Linked DNA regions of Homo sapiens: region 2 is linked to region 1. The links come from fine-mapping of genetic effects on gene expression. A gene starts in region 1. The other region holds a variant in brackets. All regions are shown on one strand. Distances are from middle to middle.

What was found. PIP is the estimated chance that this variant, and not a neighbour inherited with it, causes the effect. A credible set is the group of variants that fine-mapping cannot tell apart.
Region 2: its variant is the best candidate, but not a certain one, in a credible set for the expression of CD46 in B cells (Schmiedel 2018, PIP 0.51).

Annotation. Positions count from the first base shown.
Region 1 is chr1:207,750,621-207,753,534 of GRCh38, reverse strand. CD46 (CD46 molecule) reads right to left here and starts at 1,481. Exons shown (of 13, transcript NM_172351.3): 1 at 1,226-1,481. The coding sequence starts at 1,322. RefSeq lists silencers at 594-951, 1,531-1,640 and an enhancer at 1,221-1,430.
Region 2 is chr1:207,843,194-207,846,107 of GRCh38, reverse strand. No RefSeq gene overlaps it. Among named protein-coding and RNA genes, the nearest start is that of MIR29B2CHG, 22 kb to the right of the region's middle. The variant C/G (reference allele first, on the strand shown) is at 1,234.

The DNA of each region.
Region 1 (2,914 bases):
CATGCCCAGCTAATTTTTGTATTTTTTTGTAGAGACAAGGTTTTGCCATGTTGCCCAGGTTGATCTTGAACTCCTGGGCACAGGCAATCACCCCGCCTGGGCCTCCCAAAGCGCTGGGATCACAGGCGTGAGCCACTGCGCCTGGCCTAGCATGCATTTTTAAAAGTATTGATTCCATTCAATGAAATACAAAATAAATTTAGTGGGATAGGCCTTAAGCTTTAGCTTATGAGCTGCAGGGGAAAACAAGATTAACATTATCTGCCTTCCTTTGTTAGGATACTAATTTCTCACTAGGTTTGGCTACCATTGTTTTTTAGGTTGTTTCACATCTCTCAAATATGACTCAAAGTAATGAAAAGAAGGAAAACAATGTCAAAAAGCCATTAGGCAATGGAATCAGATACTATCTATATTGGTTGGGAACAGGAAGAAGACTCGATGGCCCACCCACCCCCCAAAAAAGCAGCCATTTACAAACTAATAGGAGCTCAGGTAACACGGAGACTGTTCACAGAAGGCACAAAAAGCATGGCGCGCCCTTACCACCTCTCTAACCCCAGGCACCGAGAGCCTGCTCTCACTCAACATGCCCTCCCTAGCCCCAGAGTCCGCGCTCACTCCATTCAAAGCAAACAGTTGAGCTGTCTTGCCCACAGTGAACTCTGCACACAGGCCACTTACGCACAGCACGCTCCCAGCAACACCTGGCCAGGCCCCTGCTCGCCCAGCCCAGCACATGGGGCACAGCAGACGCACTGCAACCCTTACCGCGGGTACTGTCCAAGCCCTAATGAACACCCCACTCACCAAGGCACCAAGGGAACACAGGGCAAACTCTCACCACGGACACAGCACGGGCCCTAGCAACACTCCCACGCACCTGTGCACTCCAGAACAAGCCCTCACCTAGGGCGCCCAGTCCGCGCTCCCCTGGCCGACTGGCTCAATCCCGAAAACACGATTCACGCTTTTTTTAGGGACGCAGCCAGATCCTGCGTAAATGCTGGCCGCGCACACGACGCCACCAAACAAGCTTCACCTCGGGCTCTGCGTGGTCCCCGCATTCCCCGCCACATACCCCCGGGATCTGAGCACTGCACCCCTCAGAGAACCCTGTCCCCAAACAGGCACGGCCTGCTGTGAGCCCCGCCCCGCGACTCTTGCCCGACTGAGGAGAGCTCTAGTCTCGCCGCGGACGCGCGAACCCGCCCCGGGGTCCTACCGGAGAAGGAGTACAGCAGCAACACCATGGCCGCCAGAAGCAACCCAGGAAAGCGCCAGGAAGGAAAGGGACACTCGCGGCGGCCGGGAGGCTCCATGCGCGGCGCGGAAGACGCTGTTATTTCTCCGGAGGAAAGCAGAGAAACCGAGAGCCAGCCGAGCAGGGAAGTCCCTTCTGGGTCCAGATATGGGACGCAACAATCCCCAACTCACAAAGCATCCAGTGCTGCAGGACAGGTGGGCGTGGCCCGAGCCGCGCCCGGGGCGGAAGTGCGTCGAGTCACCAGGGCGGCTGGGGCCAATCGGCGGGCCGCGGGGCGGAGCCTCGGCGTTCATGGGCAGCCCTTGGCCTTCGAGAGGTCAGGGGGAGGCCCTGGCGGAACCTAACAGAACAGGTTCCCCGAGGCCGCCTTTTTTCTTGCTAAGCCCTTGGCCTACCATCCCGGAAGCCTGAGGCGTCCTGCGGGAAAGGACTGGCTCGCCGTCATATTTGTGACCCAGGCAGGGTGGAGAGAAAACTAAGCTGCTTTGGTAATAGTTTCCGGGAATTCGGGAGTCAAGAATAAAGCACTTCGACCTAAAAATAGAGATCCAGAGTCTAGACAGGGGGTCACCGTGGGCTAGCACCCCTCAGGGTTAGTTTTATCCTGGGGCACTGCAGGCTGTCAGGACTGCCTGGGCCCTTACTTGGTATTTGGCATTAGTCAGGCATTATTGGGAACAATATTTGAGTTTTTCTTGCTTGAATGCCTGCTACTGGATCGTCTCGGGGCCGTCTTGTTTTCACAATCTCAAAGGTTTGGCTTCTGCACTCCCAGCCCCTAAGGTAATTTGCCCTTTGCTCCCCTCCCTGGAGGGGACCCTTCCGAATCTAATTTATTAAGCAACACCAGGCAATTAGAATATTGAGACTCTATGGGGCCCTTGCCCTTGAGCAACTAAATTTTTTATTGAAGACGAAATATACATGCATGAACAATGTAAGGACAAGGGTGTCCTAAGTGCCAAATTCCTGGAAGCAATAAATGCAGAAGGATTCGGATGGGTAGAAATTGTTAGGTGAAGAGTGGATAAGGGGGAGAACTTTTCTGGTGAAACAATCTGAGGAACAATACTGGAAAATTAAGAATGAGCAGGATTGATTTGTAGGATTGTGAGTAAACCGGAATGACCGGTAAAAGGAAAAGGACATGACTGACATTAAAAGAGCAAACAAAGAGTTGACATTTCTTCCCCTCAGATTGGCAAAGAATTAAAACGTCAGCCAATGTGAGTGAACGTGTTGCAGGGGGACCAGCACTCTGTAACATAACTTTTCAGTATGTTAAAAGTCTTAAAGTGGACATGACTTGTGTTAGGCTCTCAGTTCCCAGAGAAATCATCAGAGCTGTGATCAAAGCTCTGATGTGATCAAAACTCTGATGTGATTAATTTTTGAAAAAATGTAAACCCTAAGTGTCTAGCAAAAGTAATAAAGAATTTCTGGCAGTTACCTTTGTGTGATGGAATTCTATGCAGCAAATATTGCAAAAGAATACCAAATATGAGAAACTATGATATCATTGTAAGTGGAAAAAGCAGAGTCCAAACTGGCATGTGCCTTTTGGCAGTCCTTTTATTAAAACAAAAGTACCATATTGATATGTATAAAAAGAAACTAGGAATACAGCAAAATTAACAATGGTTGATA
Region 2 (2,914 bases), 93 kb before region 1:
GCTAATATCCAAGTGTTTACTGTGTGCCATATAGTGTTCTAAGCACTTCACATGGCCTAGCTCATTTATTCCTCATATAAGCTTATCAGTTAAGTGCTATTATTATTCCCATTTTCGAGTGAGGAAACTGAGACTCAGAGAAATCTTATAATTGCCCAGGGTCACACAACTGAGATTCCAGTTGCAGAGGCCATACTCTTAACCATTGTACCACATAGAAAGTTGCATTTCCCTAAACTGCTGTTTTATTATAGTGCTGGATTAGTGGCTGGCACATAGTAATTGCACATGGTAAATACCTGTTACATGAAAGAATTTGACAGTGGTAAGTTAACATAGGTCTTCATTAAGTGGGAAAATTTGCCCTGGCAATGGGATATGTTGACATTGGAAGCAGTTGTGTTTCATCCTCATGTATCTCTTACCTGGAGCAGTGCCTGTCTTGGAATAAGTGTCATAGTGAACATTTTGGAGTGAATGAATCAATCACAGGCAGATTGCGGACCCTGTCGTAGCAGATGGATGAGCTCAGAGGACACTACAGGAACCAGGGCCAAGGCAGGGCCATGGTCGGGGCCATGGTCATGGCCCAGGGAGAATTCACAGTTTGGCTAGCAGCATCCTGGTTGTACAGCCACAAGGCAGCCCAGTTTGTAGTAGCAGAATAGGGTCCAGTGTCAGCAGGCGAGGCTGTCCCAGTTACAGGCAGTCAGGTCAGAAGAGGTCCCAGCAGGAGTGCAGGGCTGGCAGGATTCAAGGTCAGGTAATCCAAAGTCACAAGGTTACAAGCAGTAAAAGTTCAGGCTGGCTGGCGAGAGAGCCAAGGAGCTCCTGGAGGGAGCTGTCGCCCGGGCTGGGCTCCCCTCCTGAATGAGGCCTTTCTTCTCAGGCTGCTCAGAGTGCCTGAGAGGAATACACCAGACCTCAGGGCAGGCTGGGGAGGGTGAACCGGAGACTTATCCTGGTACGGAGCCAGAAGGAGCCTTCATGAATGTCTTGTCAAACTCTTCATTTGGTGAGTGAGGAAATCAAAGTTTAAATGAGAGGTTATTGAGCAAGTGGTAGAGCCAACGCTGGAATCAGGCCCTGTAGAGTTTTTCCCACTTCCTCGTCTTTTCTATCAAAAATGAAGAGGTGATGGGAATTGTGGTTCTCGGAAGGAGGAAGCACTGAGGTGCAAGCCTTAGAGAGGAATGATGGAGAGCACTTGGATATGGGGCAAAAGGAGGAATT[C/G]CAGGAGGACTGCACAGGCCTGGAGACTGGCGGTACAGGTGATGGGAATTTGAAGGAAACTGCTTGGATGATGACTGAGATACTGACTCTAGAATATAAATTCCATGATGACAAAATCTTTTTCATTTTAATTGAAGCATAACATACAGAAAAGTGCATAGAAGGCAAGGACTTAACATTTTTTTATTGTGCTAAAAAAACACATAGCATAAAATTCATCATCTTACCCATTTGTAATTGTACAATTCAGTTGTATTAAGTTCCTTCGTGGTGTTGTGCAACCCTCACCACCATCTGTCTCCAGGACTCTATTCATCTTACGTAACTGAACTCTGTGCCCATTCAACTGCCTTTTCTTCTCCCCACAGCCCCTGGCAACCACCATTCTATTTTCTGTCTTTATGAATTTGGCTACTCTTAAAACTGCATGTAAGTGGAATTATATAGTATTTGTCTTTTTGGGACTGGTTTATTCCACTTAGCATAATGTCCTCAAGGTTCATCTGTGTTGTAGCATGTGTCAGAATTTCCTCCCTCTCAAGGATGAATAGTATTCCACTGTATTTTGTTCATCGCTTCATCCATTGATGAACCCTTGGGGTGAGGACTTTTACATGGCTTGCTCACCAGTGACTAGAACAGATCCTGGCTTTAAAAGTAACTCAACAGGTAATAGTTGAATGAATTTTAGTTATGTTGAACGGGAGGTGATAGTGGGACACCCAAGTGGGCTGTCCAACAGGTATTCCTGGATGTCTCAGGACTAAAGGTTGGAATCGCCTTCATGGGTAGGGGGTAAAGACAGTGGTGTGAAGGTGCTCCCAGGGACGGGGTTGAACAATAGGAGCAGGGGCCTGGGGCTAGCACAGGTGGGACCAGAGTCATGACAGATGCAGGAAAGGTGGTCTCAGGACAGTGGTACAGGCCAGAACACGAGATCAGGGGAAATGTACCCAGTACAGCCAGAGCCATTAAGTGCTAGGCAGTAGGCAAGGCACTAGGACTAGCAACACGTGTGAGGCAGACGTAAAGATTCATCAGCACAAATCATTCTAAGGCCTCGTGGAAGTGGAAGTCTTGAACTTGAGTGTGGACTTGAAATACAGTTGGACTCTGCACTATGAAGAGGAGAGAGAAGGACACCACAAGTGAGAAAGCGTTGAGAAAAGGAGCTTGGTGGAAAGAATGGGAGGGTACAGGGCACAAAAGGAGACCAGAATGATGAGGCAGTGGACTTGCGGGGGACGTGGGAGGCAGGGTCGGCACTTCTTTTATTTCTTTCCCTTTAAAGTTGATCAAGAGTTGGCAGTTGGGAAGCTTAAGTAATCTACATCTAAACACTACATCTAATGTAACTCCTACTTAAAATTACTGGACACCAAAAAATCCCCAGGCAAGCTTATTGCCCTGTATGTATGGTAGAATATTGTAACATGGACAGTGGTAGTTGTAAAGACCTGGTTGCATGTGACAGATGCACTTGCTCAAATATGAGTGTGGCGATTTCTCAGTCACATGCTGAAAAATCAAGAGCCTCTAGTCAATTTAACCAGTATTCACTGGGCTGCAGCTGAGAGCCCTGCTTAACACTAGATGCTGGGATAGAAAGACAAAAAGGTGAGATTAAGAAGTAAGAGTTAAGCCTGGGCTGTACCTAGACTTACCTGAGTTTTAGAGACCT